Regions from separate parts of the Homo sapiens genome. Here all the other regions are linked to region 1. The links come from fine-mapping of genetic effects on gene expression. A gene starts in region 1. Each other region holds a variant in brackets. All regions are shown on one strand. Distances are between the middles of the regions.

Region 1 (4,085 bases):
TGACAACACTGCCTCTCCACATTCATTCTTCAAGTTCCTGTCTTGGCTGGGTCTGTTTATTCTTACGGGGGTGAAACTGTAGCCGCGGCTGTGTCAGGGCCTGCTGTGTGTCAAGCTATAAAATAAACCCTTGGCAGGGCGCGGTGGCTCACGCCTGTAATCCCAGCACTTTGAGAGGCTAAGGTGGGTAGATCACCTGAGGTCAGGAGTTCGAGACCAGCGTGGCCAACATGGTGAAACTCCGTCTCTACTAAAAATACAAAAATTAGCCGGGCATGGTGGCATGTGCCTATAATCCCAGCTACTCAGGAGGCTGCGGCAGGAGAATCGCTTGAACTTGGGAGGCGGAGGTTGCAGTGAGCTGAGATCGCACCACTGCACTCCAGCCTGGGCGACAGAGTGAGACCCTGTCTCAAAAAAAAAAAAATTAAAAATTAAAGGCTCGACATCCTGCATCTCCCCAGGGTTGCCTTCTCTCCAGCCCCGGGGGCCCTGCAGTCCCTCCATCCCCCCTGCTGGATTCCTGTTGTCCCTCAGGGCCTTGATCAATGGCCCTCACTTCTCCTCTCTCCTCTGTCTCAGTGAGGATGAGGCTGGCCCATGGATCCTGCTCTCCGATGACAAGGGAGACCATCCCCCACCCCCGGAGTCCAAAATACAGAGTTTGTATGTTGGGGAAAGGGGAAAGGCAAGAGTGTGGGGAGGGAGGAAGGGCCCTGGCTGGTCCTTCTCAGGATCCCCTTTCCCGCTTCTCTGCCCGTCACCCTGCTGTGCTTGGCTCTAAGCACACCGTCCCCTCCTGCTTCTCTGGCCCTGGCCCCCATCACCTTCACACTCCCTCAGGCTGCCCTTTCTTCCCCCTCTCCCCTTTTCTCACCATCCCCTGCCCTCACCCATATCCTTGACCTCTCTGGCTTCCTGGCTCAAAGTGCCTCTGGCTGTCTCTCTCCAGCTTTGGCCTATGGTATCGGGGTAAAGCTGAATCCTCTGAGGATGAGACCAGCAGCCCTGCACCCAGCAAGCTAGGGGGAGAAGAGGAGGCCCAACCACAGTCTCCAGCTCCTGATCCGCCCTGTTCTGCCCTCCACGAACACCTTTGTCTGGGGGCCTCAGCCGCCCCAGAGGCCTGACTTAGGGGTCTGGCTGTGGAAGGATGTGTGGCCTCAAATGAGGACAGGGCTCCCGCCTTCACAGCCCTCGCCAGGGGTCTGCCCCAATCCTGGCCTGCATCAGGGCAGGACGGGGTCTCAGCCCGCCTCCCTCTCTACGTCTCTGTACCGAGCCTCTGGGGCCAGATATAAGAGTGCCTCTCTGAGTCTCAGTTTCCCCATCCATGAAATGAGAGCTGACTGCCTAGCTCCCAGGGCTTTGTGCAGACGGCCTGAGCTCATGTAATAAAGAACTGCCCGTAATACACAGAAACTGTTCCTCGCCTGTCTGTCCATGTCTGTGCCACCTCCCAACCCTGCCAGGAGCAGAGGCAGGCTGAGGGGTCCTCGCTGGTCTCCTTGCTCAGTCACTGGGTGGGGTGGCTTCTTGCAGCTCAGGCCTTGCTTTGGGAGTGTGGCCTGATGGAAAGCCGTGGCTCCCAGCCTCAGTCCACCCCCTTCCCTGGCCCCGGCACCCAGGGACCTGCAACTTCATTCTTCTGGCCCTTCCAGGCCCAGGCCAGTCAGCCCTGCCATTGCCTTTCTTTCCCTTTCTTTTTTTGAGTGTCAGTCTTTCCAGCCACCCCCTCCCTCTCAGGGAGGTGCCTCGTGGCAGCCCGCCCCTCCGGCCTGGTTTCCTCAGGAAAAGCCCTGAGAGGAAGCAGGGAGGGGGTTGGGAGCTGTGGGGGCCAGACGAACCCGAGCGCTCCCACCGAGCTGCCTGCCATGGGGCTGGGGCTGCTGCTCCCGCTGCTGCTGCTCTGGACTCGGGGGACTCAGGGGTCCGAGCTGGACCCCAAAGGGCAGCACGTCTGTGTGGCCAGCAGGTGGGTCTCGTGGGAGTCTGATGCGTGTGGCCAGCAGGTGGGTCTCGTGGGAGTCTGATGCGGGTGGCTGAACCGGTGTTGAGGCCGTTAGGGGAAGGAGGAGACTAGGAAGGGGGCTTAGGCTGAAAGGAAGGGACTGCTGATGGCGGTCTGGCAGGTAGTGGCCAGCCAGGGCAGATGGTGGAAGGGTCAGGGAAGGAGAGGGGAGGGGCTGGGGACCCTAGCTGTAAAGATCCATTAGGCCTCCCCAGGGGGCTAAGGCAGCCTCCCCCACTGCAGCCAGAGACAGTGATCCACCTTCCTCAGGGCCAGGCTGCACCCCCCACCATGTCCGGCTGACCCCTTTTTGCCCCACAGCCCCTCTGCTGAGCTGCAGTGCTGCGCAGGCTGGAGGCAGAAGGATCAAGAATGCACCATCCGTGAGTAGCCAGGACAGACCCTCAGCCAAGGAGAAGGGAGGCCGTAGCCCAGTGACAACCCTTCCTTCCTACCCCATGGGGCCTGCCCCTCCTGATACCAGGAGTCAGGGTTTCTCCTGTGACGCACCCCCAGGCCTGAAGGGGCACCTCTTGAGGAGGCATGGCCCCTGGAGCCAGTGAGAGGGCAGGGGTGTCCCCTGGTCCTGCTCCCGTCTTTCCAACCTGGGTGGGGTGTCTTTCAGCCATCTGTGAGGGGCCGGACGCCTGCCAGAAAGACGAGGTGTGTGTGAAGCCGGGCCTCTGTCGATGCAAGCCTGGATTCTTTGGGGCCCACTGCAGCTCCCGTGAGTCTCAAGGGCCAGATGAAGTTGCTGGGCAGAGCTGGGTACGGGGGCAGTGGTGTGGGAGCAGGCGAGGCAGGTAGCCATGCAGCCTCAGGACAGCAGGGCCAGAATCCCCCCCAGCTTCACTGAGGAATTGCGGTCCAGAGACAGGAAGTGACACACACTCCCGGGAGATGACCTGAGTCACCGGGTTTTTACCCACATCCACAAAGCACTGCCCACCTGAGCATCTTCCTCTTCCACTTCTCAGAAAACCTGTGATTCCCCTTCATTGTAAAATGAGTGTATTACTTGCCTTTCCCACATATACCTTATACATGGGCAGTGGATGGAAGGGGGCCCCTGGCTGGGCTCTCTGCCCTCTCTGGCAGAAAGAGAGGGAAGGGAAAGGGGTTGGGAAGCAGGAGAGCCAGAGGGTGGGCATCAGGAATCAAGGAATCACTAGGGGAAAGGTGGCTTCTCCCGACACCCTGGCGGGCAGTATCCAGGCCTGAGATCAGGAGAAAGCCAGCTCTCCTCCAGCCCAGCAGAGATCCATCTCGGCAGGGAGGAGCAGGCATGGAGGAAGGCCCACCAACCTCGGTGCCACGCTCTGGGCAAGTCCCCTGCCCACTCAGGATCTCTGAGTGTGTTCTGGAATGTGAAGTGGCAGGCTGAGCCTCCCACTAATGGCTAAGGGTTTTCTGTAGGTCAGAGCGGAGCAGGAAGTGAGTGTTGCCCAGGACAGGCTGCCGGATGTTCTGAGGGTCTGTCCCCGGCTCTTGGAGGATGGGCCCAGCGCCCCTTTTCCTTGAGGAAGGGGACGCAGGGTAAGGGTCTGCGCGCGGCCCTGAGCCCGCTGACCCCTCCCGTCCCCACCCCCGCAGGCTGCCCGGGCCAGTACTGGGGCCCCGACTGCCGTGAGAGCTGCCCCTGCCACCCGCACGGCCAGTGCGAGCCAGCCACGGGCGCGTGCCAGTGCCAGGCCGACCGCTGGGGAGCCCGCTGCGAGTTCCCGTGCGCCTGCGGCCCCCACGGGCGCTGCGACCCCGCGACCGGCGTGTGCCACTGCGAACCCGGCTGGTGGTCGTCCACGTGCCGCCGCCCGTGCCAGTGCAACACCGCGGCGGCGCGCTGCGAGCAGGCCACGGGCGCCTGCGTGTGCAAGCCGGGCTGGTGGGGGCGCCGCTGCAGCTTCCGCTGCAACTGCCACGGCTCCCCGTGCGAGCAGGACTCCGGCCGCTGCGCCTGCCGGCCGGGCTGGTGGGGTCCCGAATGCCAGCAGCAGTGCGAGTGTGTGCGGGGCCGCTGCAGCGCCGCCTCCGGCGAGTGCACCTGCCCGCCCGGCTTCCGCGGAGCGCGCTGCGA
Region 2 (4,085 bases), 42 kb after region 1:
GTTTATGCTGCAGCCAGGGGGCTGAAAGAGAGAGAGTCACGGGCTTCCCTGTGTGACTGAGGCTGCGTGGAGGCAGTGAGTGAACAGCCCGGGCTGGCAGGACAGGTTGACCCGCACGGAGGCAGAGGCGGCGAGGGGGCTGTGGGAAGCACCTGAGGGCGGGAAGAGGGGCTTGCACTCCCACCTGTGAGTGTGGTGGTGAGTCAGGAAACAGCTCCGGCTTCCTGCTTGGCAGCAAAGCTGGTCCTTCCCCTCCTGGGGTCCTTCCCCTCCGCCAGCCCTCGAGGCCCGCGCTAGGGCGCTCTGCTCAGCGCTCAGCCCTCACTCCGGCACCGCGGCTTCGAACAGCCATTATGCGCAGCTGAGACCGGTGGAGGCAGGGAAGCTGGGGACGGAGTGAGCGAGAGGGGGAATGTGGGGAGTGACCCAGATGTCAGGATGACCTACGGGAGTCCACAGGCAAATGCAAGCCCATCCGATGCTGTGGCGCTGGACCATGGGGAGGTCAGCCGAAGGCAACAGCAGGAGGTGAGGGCAGGGGGCAGATGGGTCTAAAAGGAGCTTCAGAAGGAATGTAAGCCATCTCTAGTTGGGGACTGGGCATTGTGGTATCCCCCTGTAGTCTCAGCTGCTCAGGAGGCTGAGGTGGGCAGATGAGTTGAGCCCAGGAGTTCTGCACAATAGCGTGCTGTGTTGATGAGATGTCTACACTAAGTTCAGCATCAGTGTGGTGACCTCCGGGGGGTGAGGGACCCCCAGGTTGCCTAAGGAGGGCTGAACCGGCCCAGGTCAGAAACAGAGCAGGTCAAAAGTGTCCTGCTGATCAGTAGAGGGATCATGCCTGTGAATAGCCACTGCGCTCCAGCCTGGGCAATACAGCATGACCTCATCTCCAAAAACAAATTTAAAAAAATGACCGGGCGCGGTGGCTCACGCCTGTCATCCCAGCACTTTGGGAGGCCGAGGCGGATGGATCACCTGAAGTCAGGAGTTCGAGACCAGCCTGGCCAACATGGCGAAACTCCATCTCTACTCAAAATACAAAAAAAAAATTAGCTGGGCATCGTGGCGTAGTGGCACATGCCTGTAATCCCAGCTACTCGGGAGGCTGAGGCAGGAGAATCGCTTGAACCAGGGAGGTGGAGCTTGAAGTGAGCTGAGATTGTGCTGCTGCACTGTAGCCTTGGCGACAGAGTGAGGCTCTGTCTCAAAAAATAAATAAGTAAATGAATGAAAAATAAACCTCTAGTTGAAGGGCGCAGATTGGATCTTAATAAGGCACATGTAAAAGCCGTGGGATCCAAACTGAAGTGTGTATTGGCCGGAGCCACAGGAGACTCCAGAGAGGCAGCGTGGCCTGGGGCCTACACACAGAGGCTTGGCCTGGCTTGAATCCCCAATCTGACCATTACTAGCTTGGGGGAGTCCCTTGACTTTTCTAATCTTTAAGTTTTTGTTTTGTTTTGTTTTGTTTTGTTTTTTGAGGCAGAGTTTCACTCTTGTTGCCCAGACTGGAGTGCAATGGCGCGATCTCAACTCACTGCCACCTCTGCCTCCTGGGTTCAAGCGATTCTCCTGCCTCAGCCTGCCGAGTAGCTGGGATTACAGGTGCACGCCACCACGCCTGGCTAATTTTTTGTATTTTTAGTAGAGATGGGGTTTCACCGTATTGGCCAGGCTGGTCTC[G/A]AACTCCTGACCTCAGGTGATCCCCTGCCTCGGCCTCCCAAAGTGCTGGGATTACAGGTGTGAGCCACCGCGCCCGGCCTCATGGTGTTTTTTGACCAATAAAAGTTTTTAAATAGGTGGTCAAAAGTGTGTTTCAGCTTTTAGGGAGTACCTAGCATTTGTGTCAAATGAAACCTCTCTGAAGAGAACATGAAGGATGACCTTGACCAGTGAAACCCAAAGCATAAACATCCTGACAGCAGTCAATGTGTGGTCACAACAGAATAACAAGGACAGGAGAAGAAAGGCCATCTCTGTGGACACTAATTATTTATTTAAAGGGGAATACTAATTTGTGTTTTATCCTGTAGTCGGCTTCCTTTTCTTCCTCCCAGAGCTGTGGTTCCTGCCAGAGGACACTTCCCTCGTTGGCTATGCCCAGGAGCAGCTTGACCAGAAGATTTTCCCTGTTATGAAGTCATAACACATATCATAATAGTAACTATTGTTAATACCTACCCTATTTATGATCTTTAAAACCCTCGGCCGGGCGCAGTGGCTCACGCCTGTAATCCCAGCACTTTGGGAGGCTGAGGCGGGTGGATCACCTGAGGTCAGGAGTTCGAGACCAGCCTGGCCAACATGGTGAAACCCTGTCTCTACTAAAAATACAAAAATTAGCCGGGTGTGGTGGCGGGTGCCTGTAATCCCAGCTACTTGGGAGGCTGAGGCAGGAGAATCGCATGAACCCGGGAGGTGGAGGTTGCGGTGAGCCGAGATTGCACCATTGCACTCCAGCCTGGGCAATAAGAGCGAAACTCCATCTCAAAAAAAAAAAAAAAAACTGAAAAAACAAAACACCATGAATTAAGAAGTTAAATGACAAACTAGGAAAATTTATTCATAGTATATAGAACTGTGAATGTCTTCATTTTATTTTATTTTTATTAATTTTTGAGACAAGAGTCTCGCTCTGTCGCCCAGGCTGGAGTGCAGTGGCACAATCTCGGCTCATTGCAACCTCTGCCTCTGGGGTTCAAGCGATTTTTCTGCCTCAGCTTCCCAAGTAGCTAGGATTACAGGTGCCTGCCACCATGTCCGGCTAATTTTTGTATTTTTAGTAAAGACGAGGTTTCACTATGTTGGCCAGGCTGGTCTCAAACCCCTGACCTCAGGTGATCCGCTTGCCTCGGCCTCTGAAAGTGCTGGGATTACAGGTGTGAGCCACCGTGCCCGGCCTGTGAATGAATGTCTTTAATACATAAAGAGCCTTCACAAAATCAATATACAAAGATTGGCCGGGTGCAGTGGCTCATGCCTGTAATCATTGCAGTTTGGGAAGCCAAGGTGGAAGGATCGCTGGAATCCAGGAGTTCAAGACCAGCCTGGGCAATAGAGTGAGACCCTGTCTCTATAAAAATAATTAAAACAAAGCTGAAGGAGACCTTGCTATGCAGCCCCCTGCCGCTTGTGCACCCTTGTCGACCCACACGCACCTTCAGGAGGGCGGCGCACACCTGGGGTAGTCACAGTGCAGGACTCTGGCTCAATAGCGCCTTTGCATTGGTTTGGACCTTCGGGAGGGCGGTACACGTCTGGGGTAGTCTCAGTGCAGGACTCTGGCTCAATAGTGCCTTTGCATTGGTTGGGACCTTCGGGAAGGCAGTGCATGCCTGGGGTAGTCTCGGTGCAGAAGGACTCTGGCTCAGTAGCACCTTTGCATCAGTTTGGACCTTCGGGAGGGCGGTGCAGAAGGACTCTGGCTCAATAGTGGCTTTGCATCGGTTTGGACCTTCCGGAGGGTGGTACACGCCTGGGGTAGTCTCAGTGCAGGACTCTGGCTCAATAGCACCTTTGCATTGGTTTGGACCTTCGGGAGGGCAGTACATGTCTGGGGTAGTCTCAATGCAGGACTCTGGCTCAGTAGCGCCTTTGCATTGGTTTGGACCTTCGGGAGGGCGGTGCATGCCTGGGGTAGTCTCAGTGCACGACTCTGGCTCAGTAGCGCCTTTGCATCGTTTTGGACCTTTGGGAGGGCGGTGCATGCCTGGGGTAGTCTCGGTGCAGAAGGGCTCTGGCTCAGTAGCGCCTTTGCATCAGTTTGGCCTTGGCTCCCAGCACTGGTTGTTTCCAGCGGGGTTGTCGGCTGTGTGAAGCAGGCCGTGTGCCTCTCTGGCTGTGGGGCTCTGTTCGGTGGTGTAGCAGGCCTGAGTGCTTATTAGCCATCTCGGGATCCAGGGAACATTTGGGTTTTCCCAGCTACACCTGGAAACTTGGCGGGCATATGGGAATGAGATTCTACCACTCTGGAAGATTCATGCCCACAGGTTTCATTGCAGTTTGCTGATGGTCCGCAAGCCTGAAATTAGCGTGTGGAACAGACCCCTTTGGTAGCAGTCTAGTGCCAGCTCAGACCTACG
Region 3 (4,085 bases), 55 kb after region 1:
AGTTGTGAGTCTTGCCCCCGTCTCCTCCGTCATCCTGGTCTCCCGCTGCTCCCCTGCTCCCCAACCCCCAGCCTGCTGTTATTGTACCGTTACTCCCCGCCAGCCAAAGCACTGCTCTTGGCCAAGTGTTTCAGCTGTTTCCCTCCTAGGCAGGATTTTGAGCCTGTGGAAGTCACACAGGGTCAGGACGAAGCAAACACCTCACAGTCCATCAGCCCAAGTTCCCCAGACCCTGTGGGTCTGCCAGGGCCCCGTAGGGGCTTCTCCCACCTCTGACCCTCACACTAAGTAAAAGCCCCTTTCCTCGGTGGTGTGTGTGGGAATGCTGTTGGCGAGGAGAGGGGGACACGGTGTGGGCTGGCCACCTGGGCATTGAAGTGGTGGGAGCTGGGACTCTGGGGCCAGCCATCCTATGGACTTGCAGAGATTCTCATGCCCCTGGACTGGGGAGCATCCCGAAAGTTCTTCCTCCTCCTTTTTTTGGGGGGGAACAGGGTCTTGCTCTGTCGCCCAGGTTGGAGTGCAGCAGCACGATCTCGGCTCACTGCAACCTCCACCTCCCAGGTTCAAGTGATTCTCCTGCCTCAGCCTCCCAAGGAGCTAGGATTACAGGTGCCCGCCACCATGCCCGGCTAATTTTTGTATTTTTAGTAGAGATGGGGTTTCACCATGTTGGTCAGGCTGGCCTGGAACTCCTGACCTCATGATCCGCCCACTTTGGCCTCCCAAAGTGCTGGGATTACAGGCGTGAGCCACCATGCCTGGCTTCCTTGAGCATTTCTTTGGCCTCTGCCATGTGAGCTCTCAGAGGCACTGGGGAAGCATCAGTGGACGGGGCTGGCCGGTTCCCGCCTTCAGGGAGCTCCGCTAATACCAGACAAGCCGACGGACCAGGAGCACCGTCCCCTCTGCTGGGCCGATCACTATGAGCCTGCAAGACGTGCCGTGGTCATGGCGGGGCGGTCAGGAAGGCCTCCGAGTCGGGGGGCTAATCACACGCCAGGCCCAGATGACCAGCAGGGCAGGCACGGTGGGAGGACTGGAAGGCGGGTGCCTGATGCCCCAACGCCCAGGCTGGCAGGGCTGTGCCTCTTTGCGCGGCTCAGCACAGGGACAGCAGGGGTGGCCAGACGCCCCTGCCTGCTGCGGCTCTGGCCTCCCCGGGCTAACTCTGCCCCCTCCCCCCCCCACCCCGTCCCCGCGGTGCCTGTCAGCTCATCTATGATGCTGGTGTCTCCTTCATCGTCGTCCTCGTGGTCTGGGCCGGCTGCTCCGGGCTGGTTTTCCTCAACTGCTTCTTTAACTGGCCCCTTGAGCCCTTCCCGGGGCCGGAGGACATGGACTACTCGTAAGTAGAGGTGCCCCCGTCCCGCCTGCCCCCAGCCCCCGCCCCCCAGCCGGGGTCCCGGGCAGCACCCACAGACACTCTCCCGGGGCCCCAGGGTGAAGATCAAGTTCAGCTGGCTGGGCTTTGACCACAAGATCACAGGGAAGCAGTTCTACAAGCAGGTGACCACGGTGGGCCGGCGCCTGAGTGTGGGCAGCTCCATGAGGAGTGCCAAGGAGCAGGTGGCGCTGCAGGAGGGCCACAAGCTGTGCCTGTCCACCGTCGACCTGGAGGTGAAGTGCCAGCCGGATGCCGCAGGTACCCGCCTGAGACCGCAGCCGGGCGACGGGCAGGGAGTGCTCTGTGGGTATCGGCTCACCCCATTCCCACCTCACCCCAAAAGGGGAGGCGGCCCCGCCCGCCCTGTTCTGCAGAGGCGCTCAGGAAGGCCTGGGGGAGGGAAAGGGATTTGCCTGATTTCACCCAAGAGGTGACCCCACCGCAGCGCCAACCCCGTTACCCTCACCAGGCCCGTCCCGAGGGCCCCCTCCTGGCCTCCAGCGTGGAGGGATCTGCGTGTCCCCCCGGTGGTGGGGACAGTGTGCCCCGGCCCTGAGCCCCGCACCCTCTCCCTGCAGTGGCCCCCTCCTTCATGCACAGCGTGTTCAGCCCCATCCTGCTGCTCAGCCTGGTCACCATGTGCGTCACGCAGCTGCGGCTCATCTTCTACATGGGGGCTATGAACAACATCCTCAAGTTCCTGGTCAGCGGCGACCAGAAGACAGGTAGGTGCCCCGGGCAGCCTCGGTCGCTGTCACTCCCCGGCCTGAGCCCAGCCCACTGGCCACCGGCCAGAATGTGTTAAGCTGAGCCGGGCCAGCCGGGCCATGGAAAGGCCGCATCCCAGG[A/C]GCTGTCTGCCCGTCAGAGCTATTGCATCACTGCCAGCCCCAACTGTTTCTTCGTGTCCCCATCAGGGTTTCCTGGTCCAGGAGGGAGGGAAGGACCAAAATAGCCTCCTGGGTGTGGGGTGTGGGGTGTGTGTTTTCCAGTGCCTGAGGGGGAGGGTTGCCGTGTGTGTCTGTAAATGAAAACAGAACAGAACGCTCCACCTGAGCATGGCTGAAAGACAGCAGGTCAAGCCCAAAGTCCTCCCAGAAAGTGGCACGGTGGGTGCGTGGACACCCTGGGCATCGAGGTCAGGACGGGGCTGGAGACGCTGGGGCAACTGGCCCACACTGGGATCTGCATCCCTCACCGAGAAACAGGGCAGGGCAGAGACTTCCTCGGAGCTTGCGAACAGTTGAGGCTTGTCAGCTCCAACAAACACAGCTGATAACCCACAGTCCACTTTTCCAAACAGGGCAGGTCTTCAGCTGATTAGAGGTTTTGATTCTACAGAGAAAGTCAGGACTTCCCCGGGGCCTGAGCTGAGTCAGCCTTAGTCATCCCCAGGCGGGACAAACACTCCAAATCCTTTTTATTGGCAGCCTCCCTGGTGTGCCACTTTTTCCGATGGTTTCCTTGTTTTTATCAAGGTGAAGATACCCTAGGACTTGTGAAGAATCAGTTATCAGGTTTTTAGGGGATGAGAAATCCAGCTTTATCAAAAGGAAAAGATAGCAAAGGGAACCAGATAACAGCCAGTTCTACTGTGAAAATGGTAGTCTAGGCCAGGCACGGTGGCTCACGCCTGTAATCCTAGCCCTTTTGGAGGCTGAGGCAGGTGGATCATGAGGTCAGGAGTTCAAGACCAGCCTGGCCAAGATTGTGAAACCCCCATCTCTACTAAAAATACAAAAAATTAGCCAGGCGTGGTGGTGGGCCCCTGTAATCCCTGCTACTTGGAAGGCTGAAGCAGAGAATTGCTTGAACCCAGGAGGTGGAGGTTGCAGTGAGCCGAGATTGCGCCACTGCACTCCAGCCTGGGCGACAGAGTGCGACTCCATCTCAAAAGAAAAAAAAATATCTGTGGAACACACTTTGGGGAACCCTAATCTATCATGTCTCTTTCTTTCTTGTTTTTTTGAGGCAGGGTCTCTTTCTGCGTTGCTTAGGCTGGAGTGCAGTGATGTGAACGCTGCAGCCTTGACCTCTTAGGGCTCCCCAGGTGCGCGCCACCACACCCAGCTAATTTTTAAATTCTTTGCAGAGATAGGGTCTTGCTGTGTTGCCCAGGTTGGTGTCGAACTCCTGGGCTCAAGGGATCCTCCCCTCTTGGCCTCCCAAAGTGCTGGGATTACAGGCGTAAACCTCCACACCCAGCCTGATAAACATTCAGCCCTGGAGTGGCGGAAACCCCAAAGTGTGCAGAGAGAGCTGGTCCCTGGCCCTCGAAAGGCTCATCTCCCTGCTGCTGAGTCAGCGTCTTTTACTCAAGCTGTCTGAGAAATCTTTTGCTGCCCAGGAGGAATGTTTCCAACTGTTTCGTATGTTCAAAAAGTCAATTTCAAGAAGTAGAGGAAGCCAGGCCAGGAAGGTTGGTCTGTGGCAGACGAGGCACTGGTTTTCCCCCTCCTCCTTCTGTGACCCGTTACACCCAACACCCATAGCCCTAGCTCCGGCCGAGAGGCAGCTGCAGGGTCCGGGTCACTTTCCGCACACTCGTGAGCTTTGCGGCTCCGCAGGAGGGGGTGTGCCGTGCTGCTGAGGAACGGCTCAAAGCACCAGAGCCATCGCCTCCGCGTACGGCCCCGCGACCACCCGCGGCAGAGGCTCCCGGGTGCTGGTTCCGAATGGAGACTCCAGGCCTTGCCGCTGA
Region 4 (4,085 bases), 890 kb before region 1:
TTTAGTAAACAGTTTTATATTTACAGAAAAATGGCAAAGATGGTAAGTACAAAAAGTTCCATATCCTCTGCACTCAGTTTCCCTATTAACATCTTACATTTGGATAACTGCTTTTCTGATTAATAATCATGGAATAGCTGGCTTTAGTCACTGGAGTAGATACCAATATGGAGGCTGGAAGGAACTAAGAACTATGTTTATCATCATTTTTACCACCACCTCTACCATGAAGTGGTGATATGTTATTCATATAATTATTCCTATTTTATTTGAATTATTTATTTCATTTGATTCTCAATATATGCCTGTGAAGTAGGCCAAGGAAGTTATCCCCACCTTACAGCTGAAAAAAACTGAGGACCAGAAAGATCACACAATTACTAATAATCATGGCTGATATATTTTTGTCTATTTGATTGTTTTTGTTTGTTGTTTTGTTTTGAGACAGGGTCTCATTCAGTTGCCCAGACTGGAGCATAGCGGCACAATCTTGGATCACTGCAGCCTCAACCTCCTGGACTCAAGTGATCCTCTTGCCTCAGCCTCCTGAGTAGCTGGGACTACAGGTGTGCACCACCACGTCCTGCTAATTTAAATTTTTTTTTTGTAGAAGCAGGGTCTCCCTATGTTGCCCAGGCTGGTCCCAAACTCCTGGACTCAAGCAATCCTCCTGCCTCAGCCTCCCAAAGTACTGGCATTACAGGTGTGAGTCACTGCGCCTGGCCGACATGGCTGATGTTTATTAAACATTTCCAATAAGGCAAGTCTTATTGATAATACACCAATAATATGTTAACAATTTATATGTATTATCTCATTTAAACCTCAAACTAGCATAGAAGTTTTTATATAAATACAAATTTAAAAGGGGCCGGTCGTGGTGGCTCACGCCTATAATCCCAGCAATTTGGGAGGCCGAGGCGGGCGGATCACCTGAGGTCAGCAGTTAAAGACCAGCCTGACCAACATGGACAAACCCCATCTCTACTAAAAATACAAAATTAGTCAGGCGTGGTGGCGTGTGCCTGTAATCCCAGCTACTCAGGAGGCTGAGGCAGGAGAATCACTTGAACCCGCGAGGCAGAAGTTGCGGTGAGCCAAGATTGAGCCCCTGCACTCCAGCCTGGGCAACAAGAGTGAAACTCCGTCTCAAAAACAACAAAAACAAAAACAAAACAAAAAATTAAAAGGAAATAAAAATAATTTTAAAAAACCTCAAACTAATCTTAAATGCTACTATTACATCTTCATTTTACAGACAAGCAAACTGAGGCCCAGAAAGACTAAGAAACTTACCCTTGGACATACGACTTGAAATAAAGGAAACAAATCAAATCTGAGAAGTCTGACTTCGAGCCCTCCATGCACAGCCATTAAACTATACGGTAACTATGGTGGCTGAATTCCCTTTCCCAGAATCCCCTTTCCCAGAGTTCCCTTTCCTGTTCATTTCCAGTTAGCATGGGCCACAAATGATTCTTTTTTTTTTTTTTCGCCCCTGAACCCAATTGAAAACTACACAAGAGAGTCCTGTGAGAGACTGGAGGGCTGAATTGAAGCAGCAGCCGTTCCGCAGCTGACAGTGCTGGTTATCTGATGCCTCAACTCATTGGCAAGAGGCAGCAGCTACACCTGTAATTGCTTCACCTTCTCCTGAATCTTCCTTCAGCTTCTCTTACTCCTGGACCAGGTGTCAGTGTTTATATCTCTGGGCAAAGAGCCCTGGTTTCTCCTGGATGCCCACACCACCAACATTAGAAGCAACAAGAACTGACGCGGTCTCCAGCCTGCCCTCATGGGCTCCAGTTTATGCTAGTGAGTTCCAGCTCATTCTCCACTTTACCAACTGCCTGCCCCGGGGACCTCAAACTCCAGCATCAGATATGAAGACAACAACGGTGTAGAAACTGCTTAACCAGCAGCCTTCACTTTGCATGGCCATGCAGGACCACAGATAGGACCGTGCAAGCTGAAACCATGCAGAGCAATCTTTTTTTTTTTTTTTTTTTTTTTTTGGATACAGAGTCTCGCTCTGTTGCCCATGCTGGAGTGCAGTGGCACAATCTCGGCTCACTGCAACCTCTGCCTCCTGGGTTCAAGTGATTCTTCTGCCTCAGCCTTCCAAGTAGCTGGGATTACAGGAGTGCGCTACCACGCCCAGTTAATTTTTGTATTTTTAGTAGAGATGGGGTTTCACTATATTGGCCAGGCTGATCTTGAA[C/T]TCCTGACCTTGTGATCCATCTACCTCAGCCTCTCAAAGTGCTACGATTACACCACGCCCGGCCTTTTTTTTTGTTTTTGTTTTTGTTTTTTGAGACGGAGTCCCACTCTGTCACCCAGGCTGGAATGCAGTGGCGCCATCTCGGCTCACTTTAACCTCCACCTCCCAGGTTCAAGCGATTCTCCTGCCTCTGCCTCCTGATTAGTGGGACTACAGGTTGCCGCCCCCACGCCCGGCTAATTTTTTGTATTTTTAGTAGAGACGGGGTTTCACCGTGTTAGCCAGGATGGTCTCCATCTCCTGACCGCCTGCCTCGGCCTCCCAAAGTGCTGAGATTACAGGCATAAGCCACCACGCCCGGCCGCAAAGCAATCTTAATAATCAATGAGAAAATGTATGATTGCTCTGTGACCTTTAAATATTTTGGTCAAAACATTAAAAACTCTCTTACTGTCAGTTGTAAATATATAGGAATTTTTTCTTTGATTAAAAAAAATAGAGATAGGGGTTTCACCATGTTGTCCAGCCTGGTCTCGAACTCCTGAGCTCAAGTGATCTGCCCACCTCGGCCTCCCAGAGTGCTGGGATTACAGGCGTGAGCATGCCTGGCTGGAAAAAAATTTTTAAGTGCAGCTGATATTTATTTAGTACCTCTTTTCATTCATGATAAAGGTTATTTAAACCTTTTTTCTTTCTCTTGGCCGGGCACGGTGGCTTACGCCTGTAATCCCAGCAATTTGGGAGGCTGAGGTGGGTGGATCGCTTGAGATCAGGAGTTTGAGACCAGCCTGGCCAACATAGTGAAACCCCGTCTCTACTAAAAAAATACAAAAGTTAGCCAGGTGTGGTGGTACACACCTGTAATCCCAACTATTTGGGAAGCTGAGGCAGGAGAATTGCTTGAACCCAGGAGGCAGAGGTTGCAGTGAGCAGAGATTGTGCCACTGCACTCTAGCCTGAGTGACAGAATGAGACTCCGTCTCAAAAAAAAAAAACAAACAAAAAAAAAAACCTTTTGTCTTTTTCTTAACCAGCTATGCCAGGGGGTTGGCAATTACTCTTTTCAAAATACGAGATGCAGTTGTTTTCAGATATATCCACAAATCCTTTTCTTTTTTTTGAGACAGAGTCTCGCTCTGTCGCCCAGGCTGGAGTGCAGTGAGCCACCGCTTCTTATAATATACACCTTAAATATAAGGATGCAGAAAGGCACATCATTCACTCAAAAACAGAAATATTAATAATAATAATTTAAAAATCGGCAAGGCCGGGTGCGGTGGCTCACGCCTGTAATCCCAGCGCTTTGGGAGGCCGAGGCGGGCGGATCGCGGGGTCAGGAGATCGAGACCATCCTGGCTAACACGGTAAAACCCCATCTCTACTAAAAATACAAAAAATTAGCCGGGCGTGGTGGTGGGAGCCTGTAGTCCCAACTCCGGAGGCTGAGGCAGGAGAATGGCATGAACCCGGGAGGCGGAACTTGCAGTGAGCCAAGATCACGCCACTGCACTCCAGCCTGGGCGACAGAGGGAGACAAATGAAGGTATACAAATGGCCAAGAAACACATGAAAAGATGCTCAACATCACTAATCGTTAAGGAAATGTAAATCAAAACCTCATTCCCATTAGGATGGCCACTACAGGAAAAAAAAAAAAAAACACACACAGAAAATTAAGTGTTGGAGAGAATGTGGAAACATTGGAACTCTCGTGTACTCTTGGTGGGAATGTAAGCGGTTAAAAGTAGCAGGGCAGTTTGTTTGTTTGTTTTGAGATGGAGTCTCTATCTGTCGCCCAGGCTGGAGTGAAGTGGTACAATCTCAGCTCACTTCAACCTCCAACTCTCAGGCTCGAGCAATTCTC
Region 5 (4,085 bases), 21 kb before region 1:
GGTGTGTTGGGAGCTCAGCTGGGTTTTGGGAAGACAACTCTGAGCATTTGTTTTTCCCAGAATCACCCAGCTACTCAGTGACAGGGATGCAGAAGGTGGATAGATTACACTGGTGATTAAGGAATAGAGCTCTGTTAGAAGACAGTTGTAGAGTGGTAAGGCATTGAATGCAAGGGAATCAAGAGTGCGGGACCCAGCCGGCCGCGGTGGCTCATACCTGTAATCCCAGCACTTTGGGAGGCCGAGGCGGGTGGATCACGAGTTCAGGAGATTGAGACCATCCTGGCTAACGCGGTGAAACCCCGTCTCTACTAAAAATACAAAAAATTAGCTGGATGTCGTGGCGGGCGCCTGTGGTCCCAGCTACTCAGGGGGGCTGATGCAGGAGAATGGCAGGAACCTGGGAGGCAGAGCTTGCAGTGAACCGAGATCGCGACACTGCACTCCAGCCTGGGTGACAGAGCAAGACTCTGTCTCAAAAAAAAAAAAAAAAAAAAAAAAAGAATGCTAGACCCCATTGAGATACTGGAAGAGGGGAGAGGAGAGAGAGCAGAAGAGGCCATTGGCCTGGGAAAGAATTGTAGGCATCAGGGAACTGGATATCAGAAGTTAGAGGCTGAGGAGTGGAGGAGTGTCTGAGAGGGTAAGGATGCAGTTGACTCTAGTGGTTAGAAGCACAGGCTCTGGAGTCAGATGGGGTTCACATCATATCTTTGTCATATTACTAGTTGGGATCTTGGGAATATTGCCCATGCTGGGCCTCAATTCCCTCATCTGTAAAATAGGGATACTGATAGGACCTAGGTCAGACGGCTTTTGTGAGAATTAAATGAAACGGGGTATTTAGTAAGCCATATTACTTGGTAAATTGCATGATAAAGCTGGGCATGGTGGCTTATGCCTGCAATCCCAGCACTTTTGGAAGCCGAGGTGGGAGGACTGCTTGAGCCCAGGAATTTGAGACCAGCTTAGGCAACATAGCAAGATCCTGTTTATATTTAAAAATAAATAAATAGGCCGGGTGCGGTGGCTCACGCCTGTAATCCCAGCACTTTGGGAGGCCGAGGTAGGTGGATCACGAGGTCAGGAGTTCAGGACCAGCCTGGCCAATATGGTGAAACCCCATCTCTACTAAAAATACAAAAATTAGCCAGGCGTGGTGGCACATGTCTGTAGTCCCAGCTACTCTGGAGACTGAAGCAGGAGAACCACTTGAGCCCCGGAGGTGGAGGTTGCGGTGAGCTGAGATTGCGCCACTGCACTCCAGCCTGGGTGACAAAGTGAGACTCCATCTCAAAAAAAAAAAAAAAAAAAAAAAGCTATGTCATGGGCAAGTTCTATAACTTGTTTTTTATGAAGACATAAGAGGTATAACATATATAAATTTCTTACCATGGTACCTAGTACACGTAGACCTGAGTAAATATTATTTTCCTTCTTGCCTCCCCTTATCCCCCAGGAATTTCTGCTATTTAGTAAAGGAACACTGGGCTCCTCAGGAATTTATGCCTCCTCCCCTTCAGGGATAGAGCACTGTTAACTACAACAGAAATACTGTGTTCCATTACACACATCAGCAATTCCAAGTGCAGTCCAAGAATTTACTAAACCTAATGGGAATCATCCACTTGCCTTTACCCCAGTATCTAGCCTATCCTGGCCCCTGGCCCTCCTTTTTTTTTTTGAGAGGGAGTCTTGCTCTATTGCCCAGGCTGGAGTGCAGTGGCACAATTTCAGCTCACTGCGACCCCCGCCTCCCGGGTTTAAGTAATTCTCCTGCCTCAGCCTCCTGAGTAGCTGGGATTACAGGTGCCTGCCACCATGCCCGGCTAATTTTTGTATTTTTAGTAGAGACAGGGTTTCACCATGTTGGTCAGGCTGGTCTCAAACTCCTGACCTCATGA[T/C]CCAACCGCCTCGGCCTCCCAAAGTGCTGGGATTACAGGCATGAGCCACCGCACCCGGCCCCCCTCCTTTCTGTAGATCTGCCTGGTTGTCTCATCCTGTGGACATGCGAGATGCTCAGTCTAGCTTTCATAGTAGGGTTTGAGCTGTTATCTCACCTGCAGTCTTTTCTCCTTGCTTGTCTGAATACCATTTGCTCAAGGCAGATTACTATAGTAACTCCAGCCAACGCACTCTTTCACCTCAATAATTGTTCAGAAGACATTTTTTGCCTTAAAGTCTTGACTATATCATTTGGTATTTTGTGGTTTGCTATCTTGTTTTATTCAGCTTTTCAAAGAAACAGCTTTGGTTTCATTAATTTTTATCGTTTTTCTCTTTTTTGTTGCATTGATTTTTTTTTTTTTTGAGATGGGGTCTCTATGACCCAGGTTGGTGTGCAGTGTCGCAGTCTCAGCTCACTGTAACCTCTGCCTCCCAGGCTCAGGAGACCCTCCCACCTTAGCCTCCCAAGTAGCTGGGACCACAGGCACATGCCACCATGCCTGGCTGATTTTTCTTTGTATTTTGGATACAGACAGTTTCGCCATGTTGCCCAGGCTGGTCTTGAATTCCTGAGCTCAGGTAATCCACCCCCCTGGGCTCCCAAAGTGCTGGGATTGTAGGTGTGAGCCACCACGCCTGGCCTTGTTGCATTGATTTCTTCTCTTATCATTGCCATCCCTTTGCTAGTTTGTTAAGGTAAAAGGTTAGATTATCAATTTTGGACCTTTCTCTTTTTTTTTTTTTGAGACAGAGTCTCGCCCTGTCACTCAGGTTGGAGTGCAGTGGCGCGATCTCTGCTCACTGCAAGCTCCGTCTCCCGGGTTCACGCCATTCTCCTGCTTCAGCTCCCAAGTAGCTGGGACTACAGGTGCCCACCACCACACCCGGCTAATATTTTTTTTTGTATTTTTACTACGACGCGGTTTCACCGTGTTTGCGAGGATGGTCTCGATCTCCTGACCACCACCTGATCAGCTTGCCTCGGCCTCCCAAAGTGTTGGGATTATAGGTGTGAGCCACCGCACCTGGCCTGGACCTTTCTCTTTTTCTTTTTTTTTTTTTTTGAGATGGAGTCTCACTCTCTCACCCAGGCTGGAGTGCAGTGGCGCGATCTCAGCTCACTGCAACCTCCGCCCTCTGAGTTCAAGCGATTCTCCTGCCTCAGTCTCCCGAGTAGCTAGGATTACAGATGCCTGCCACCGCACCCGGCTAATTTTTTTGTGTGTTTTTAGTAGAGACAGGGTTTCACCATCTTGGCCAGGCTGGTCTTGAACTCTTGACCTCGTGATCCACCTGCCTCGTCCTCCCAAAGTGCTGGGATTACAGGCGTGAGCCACCGTGCCCAGCTGACCTTTCTCGTTTTTTTTTGTTTGAGACGGAGTCTTGCTCTGTCGCCCAGGCTGGAGTGCAGTGGCGCAATCTTGGCTCACTGCAACTTCCGCCTCCTGGGTTTGTGTCATTCTCCTGCCTCAGCCTCCTGAGTAGCTGGGACTATAGTCGCCTGCCACCATGCTCAGCTAATTTTTTGTATTTGTAGTAGAGACGGGTTTCACCGTGTTAGCTGGGATGGTCTTGATCTCCTGACCTCGTGATCCACCCACCTCAGCCTCCCAAAGTGCTGGGATTACAGGGGTGAGCCACCGTGCCTGGCCAACCTTTCTCTTTTTCTAATAGTATTATTCACTTCTGTAAATTTTCCTCTCAGCATTGCTTTAGCTGCATTCCTCCCTTTTTTTTTTTTTTTTTTTTTGAGGCAGAGTCTCACATTTTCGCCCGGGCTAGAGTGCAGTGGCACGATCTCGGCTCACTGCAACCTCCGCCTACCCTGTTCAAGCGATTCTCCTGCCTCAGCCTCCCAAGTAGCTGGGATTACAGGTGCCCGCCACCACACCCAGCTAATTTTTTTTTGTATTTTTAGTAGAGACAGGTTTTTACCATGTTGGCCAGGCTGGTCTTGAACTCGTGACCTCGTGATTCACCCGCCTTGGCTTCCCAAAGTGCTGGGCTTACAGATATGAGCCATCGTGCCCGGCCCCATTCCTCACATTTTAATATGTTGTGTTTTCATTTTTATTTAGTTAAAAGTATATTCTAATTTCCCTTATGAGTTCATATTTCACCTTAGGTTGTTTCAAATT
Region 6 (4,085 bases), 41 kb before region 1:
GGTGCTGGGAATGTTCTGGAACTCAATAGTGGTAACTGCACAAGTCTGTAAATATACTAATTTTGAATCATTAAAACTAAAATTCATTAACAATCATTGAATTATACACATGAAAACAAGCGAACTTTATGGATTGCGATTTTTTTTTTTTTTTTTTTGAGGCAGAGTTTCGCTCTTGTTGCCCAGGCTGGAGTGCAATGGCGCGATCTCAGCTCACTGCAACCTCTGCCTCCAGATGCAAGCGATTCTTACATCTCAGCCTCCCAAGTAGCTGGGATTACAGGCATGCACCACCATGCCCCGCCAATTTTTGTATTTTTAGTAGAGACAGAGTTTCACCATGTTGCTTCGTCTGGTCTCGAACTCCTGACCTCAGGTGATCCGCCCGCCTCGACTTCCCAATGTGCTGGGATTACAGGCATGAGCCAGCATGGTGGCCATGGAGTGCAACTTTTATCTCAATAATGCTGTTTTGAAAATAGTACAGAGAGTTCTTGTGTACCCTTCACGTAGCTTGAGAACTTTTTATTTTATTTTATTTTTGAGCGAGAGTCTCACTCGGTCACCCAAGCTGGAGTGCAATAGCATGATCTCAGCTCACTACAACCTCCACCTCCGGGTGCAAGCGATTCTTATGCCTCAGCCTCCCAAGTAACTAGGATTACAGGCATGTGCCACCATGCCCCACTAATTTTTGTATTTTAGTAGAGACAGGTTTTCACCATGTTGGCTAGGCTGGTCTCGAATTCCTGACCTCAAATGATCCACCTGCCTCAGCCTCCCAAAGTGCTGGGATTACAGGCGTGAGCCACCACACCTGCCCCCTGCCCACCCCCCAGAACTTGTTTTTTTTTTTTTTTTTGGAGACGGAGTCTTGCTCTGTCACCCAGGCTGGAGTGCAGTGGCCCGATCTTGGCTTACTGCAACCTCTGCCTACCGGGTTCACACCATTCTCCTGCCTCAGCCTCCCGAGTAGCTGGGACTACAGGCGCCTGCCACCATGCCCGGCTAATTTTTTTGTATTTTTAGTAGAGATGGGGTTTCACCGTGTTAGCCAGGATGGTCTCGATCTCCTGACCTCGTGATCCACCCTCCTCAGCCTCCCAAAGTGCTGGGATTACAGGCGTGAACCACCGCGCCCGGCCACCCCCCAGAACTTCTTATACAACCATAGAGCGACAATCAAACCAGGAAATTGACATTGGTACAATACTCTTTTTTTCTTTTTTGAGACGGAGTCTTGCTCTTTTGCCCAGGCTGGAGTGCAGTGACTATCTCAGCTCACTACAACCTCTACCTCCTGGGTTCAAGCGATTCTCCTTCCTTAGCCTCTCAAGTAGCTCGAAGCACAGGTGCGTGCCACCATGCCCGGCTAATTTTTTTGTATTTTTAGTAGAGACAGGGTTTCACCGTGTTAGCCAGGATGGTCTCGATCTCCTGACCTTGTGATCCGCCAGCCTCGGCCTCCCAAAGTGCTGGGATTACAGGCGTGAACCACCGCGCCCGGCCACAATACTCTTAATGAAACTACAGACCATAGTAGGATTTCACCAGGGCTTAGAGCAATGTCTGGCACGTAGTGAACCTTACACAGGTGAAAGGACTTCACTACCATGACGATGATGATGATGAAGATGATAATGATGATGTTGGACTTTCTAGCACAGCCAGATTGATATGGTGCCTATTTTCAGAGCATGCCATGTTAGTTTCTATATCTAAACCTTTTTTGGCCTGGCACGGTGGCTCACGCCTGAAATCCCAGCAATTTGCGAGGCTGAGGTAGGCAGATTACTTGAGCTCAGTAGTTCGAGACCAGCCTGACAAACATGGAGAAACGCCATCTCTACGAAAAATACAAAATTAGCCGGGTGTGGTGGCACATGCCTGTAACCCCAGCTACTCAGGAGGCTGAGGCAGGAGAATCGCTTGAATCCTGGAGGCAGAGGTTGCAGTGAGCCGAGATTGTGACACTGCACTCCAGCCTGGCAACAGAGTGAGACTCTGCCTCAAAAAACAAAAAACAAACCAAAACCCCCACTTTTTTTCTATGAAACCAGCCTCGCTCTGTCACCCAGGCTGGAGTGCAGTGGTGCCATCATGATCCTCCCACCTCAGCCTCCCGAGTAGCTGGGACTACAGGCATGTACCACTATGCCTGGTTAATATTTTTATTATTTGTAGAGATGAGGGTCTCAGTATGTTGCCCAGGCTAGTCTTAAACTCATGAGTTTAACCAATCCTCTCGCCGCTGCCTCCCAACGTGCTAGGATTACAGGTATGAGTCACGGTGCCCGGCTTCTTTCTTAACTCTTTCTAGTAGTTCTACCACTTGGGATTACCTTTTTCCTTCCTCTCCATTTACCTTTATGAAATCCTCACATCCATCCATCTCCATCAAATCTTTAACAATTCTCCTCTGTCTTTTTTGACTGTAGGGACCTTTAGAACACCCAGCATTAAAAAA[T/C]AGATTTCAGGCCGGGCATGGGGGCTCACGCCTGTAATCCCAGCACTTTGGGAGGGCCGAGGCAGGAGGATTTCGTAAGGTCAGGAGTTTGAGACCAGCCTGGCCAACATAGTGAAACCCTGTCTCTACTAAAAATCCAAAACTTAGCCGGCAGTAGTGGCGCGTGCCTGTAATCCAGCTACTCTGGAGACTGAGGCAGGAGAATTGCTTGATCCTGGGAGGTGGAGGTTGTGATGAATTGAGATCGCGCCATTGCACTCCAGTCTGGGCAACAGAGTGAGACCCTGTCTCAAAAAAACAAAAGGAATATTTTTTAAATTTTTACCGTTCTGAAAGCACATTGACATCCTTTGAATTTTTTTCTAATTATTTCACTTTGATTTGTAAATTCTCAACTAGATTCAGGGGCTGTATGGGTTACAATTCCTCTGCACCCTCCACAGAATTTCAGACTTTTTTTTTTCCCCCGAGACAGAGTCTCGCTCTGTCACCCAGGCTGGAGTGCAGTGGCGCGATCTTGGCTCACTGCAACCTCCCCCTCCCGGGTCAAGCGATTCTCCTGCCTCAGCCTCCCGAGTAGCTGGGACTACAGGCGCCCGCCACCACGCCCGGCTAATGTTTGTATTTTTAGTAGAGACGGGGTTTCACCATGTTGGCCAGGCTGGCCTCGAACTTCTGGCTTTAAGTGATCCGCCTGCCTCGGCCTCCCAAAGTGCTGCGATTCCAGGCGTGAGCCACCGCGCCCGGCCAAGGTCTTAATTCTTGCCTGCCTTTCTGCTCCCCTGTGAACTCTACTGGTTGTCTTTTTTCCTGCTTTATCCCTCGTCCTCGGTAGACAGTGATGGTTAAATGAATGAATGCATGAACAAATGACTGTCCAGGAGCTAGTACTGCATTGCATGTACACATTGATGACAACAGACATCGTACAATGCGCAATCTTGGCAAATTTATTCAAACCCTTTAGACTTCGCTCTCTCACAGTGCGACGCCGGGAGCCCATCACACGCTGAGGTCTGTCAGAGGCCCCAGAAACAGCCTCGGAAATGGAGGAGGCGGGGCTTCACCCCGACCACACCCCCTTGCGTTCAAAGCCTTTCCGCCTATGGGCCCGCCTCCTCGGCGCAGTGTGCAACTCTAATTGGTCGTCTCACTAATCCATCTGAGCACCTCGGCGCCGACTGGATCAACTGCTGAACTCGGGTTGCGCACTTCCCGGCGCTGGGAACGCGGAGCGGACGCAGTCTGGCCGCCATTGCGCTGCGGGGAAAGCGGCCTCTTGTGTGAGGGCCTGTGGGGTGCGTGGCAGGCGTTTAAGGCCGGGCTGCGGGAGGCGTGGTCGGGTCGGGCCGAGTGACCGAAGGGGTTAGGCCGGGCGGGGCTGGATGCACTGTGTGGCGGGACTGCAGGCCGGGGTCCCCGGACGCCTTTCTGCTGCGCTTCTTGTGGGCCCGGGCCTGTGGTTAGTGAATTTTTCTATCCCGCCGCTCCCCAGATTCTCCGGATATGGCCGGAGTGTTTCCTTATCGAGGGCCGGGTAACCCGGTGCCTGGCCCTCTAGCCCCGCTACCGGACTACATGTCGGAGGAGAAGCTGCAGGAGAAAGGTGAGGCGAGAG

Which allele goes with the higher level. Alleles are on the strand shown, and positions count from the first base shown. SD is a standard deviation of normalised expression in the study named. Not every link is listed here.
In carriers of allele C in region 3, the expression in cerebellum of the gene that starts at base 1,840 in region 1 tends to be higher than with A alone (small effect, 0.37 SD a copy in GTEx).

Evidence for each region.
Region 2: its variant is fine-mapped to the expression of SCARF1 in whole blood (TOPMed, PIP above 0.99).
Region 3: its variant is fine-mapped to the expression of SCARF1 in cerebellum (GTEx, PIP above 0.99). The same link has a PIP of 0.9 or more in cerebellar hemisphere.
Region 4: its variant is fine-mapped to the expression of SCARF1 in skeletal muscle (GTEx, PIP 0.93).
Region 5: its variant is fine-mapped to the expression of SCARF1 in whole blood (TOPMed, PIP 0.93).
Region 6: its variant is fine-mapped to the expression of SCARF1 in whole blood (TOPMed, PIP above 0.99).

The regions. Positions count from the first base shown.
Region 1 is chr17:1,643,487-1,647,571 of GRCh38, reverse strand. SCARF1 (scavenger receptor class F member 1) reads left to right here and starts at 1,840. Exons shown (of 11, transcript NM_003693.4): 1 at 1,840-1,975; 2 at 2,333-2,394; 3 at 2,637-2,738; 4 at 3,605-4,085. The coding sequence starts at 1,875. It overlaps RILP (Rab interacting lysosomal protein), which reads left to right. Exons shown (of 8, transcript NM_031430.3): 7 at 583-666; 8 at 953-1,422. The coding sequence ends at 1,130.
Region 2 is chr17:1,601,183-1,605,267 of GRCh38, reverse strand. The region is part of intron 5 of SLC43A2 (solute carrier family 43 member 2); the gene reads left to right. It also overlaps the pseudogene RN7SL105P. Among named protein-coding and RNA genes, the nearest start is that of SLC43A2, 26 kb to the left of the region's middle. The variant G/A (reference allele first, on the strand shown) is at 1,687.
Region 3 is chr17:1,588,829-1,592,913 of GRCh38, reverse strand. It overlaps SLC43A2 (solute carrier family 43 member 2), which reads left to right. Exons shown (of 14, transcript NM_152346.3): 7 at 1,215-1,348; 8 at 1,443-1,645; 9 at 1,966-2,112. Among named protein-coding and RNA genes, the nearest start is that of PITPNA, 28 kb to the right of the region's middle. RefSeq lists a silencer at 887-1,052 and enhancers at 1,820-2,365, 2,366-2,911. The variant A/C (reference allele first, on the strand shown) is at 2,236.
Region 4 is chr17:2,533,530-2,537,614 of GRCh38, reverse strand. No RefSeq gene overlaps it. Among named protein-coding and RNA genes, the nearest start is that of METTL16, 24 kb to the right of the region's middle. The variant C/T (reference allele first, on the strand shown) is at 2,222.
Region 5 is chr17:1,664,772-1,668,856 of GRCh38, reverse strand. The region is part of intron 24 of PRPF8 (pre-mRNA processing factor 8); the gene reads left to right. Among named protein-coding and RNA genes, the nearest start is that of RILP, 17 kb to the right of the region's middle. The variant T/C (reference allele first, on the strand shown) is at 1,905.
Region 6 is chr17:1,684,460-1,688,544 of GRCh38, reverse strand. It overlaps PRPF8 (pre-mRNA processing factor 8), which reads left to right and starts at 3,678. Exons shown (of 43, transcript NM_006445.4): 1 at 3,678-3,765; 2 at 3,963-4,073. The coding sequence starts at 3,974. The variant T/C (reference allele first, on the strand shown) is at 2,468.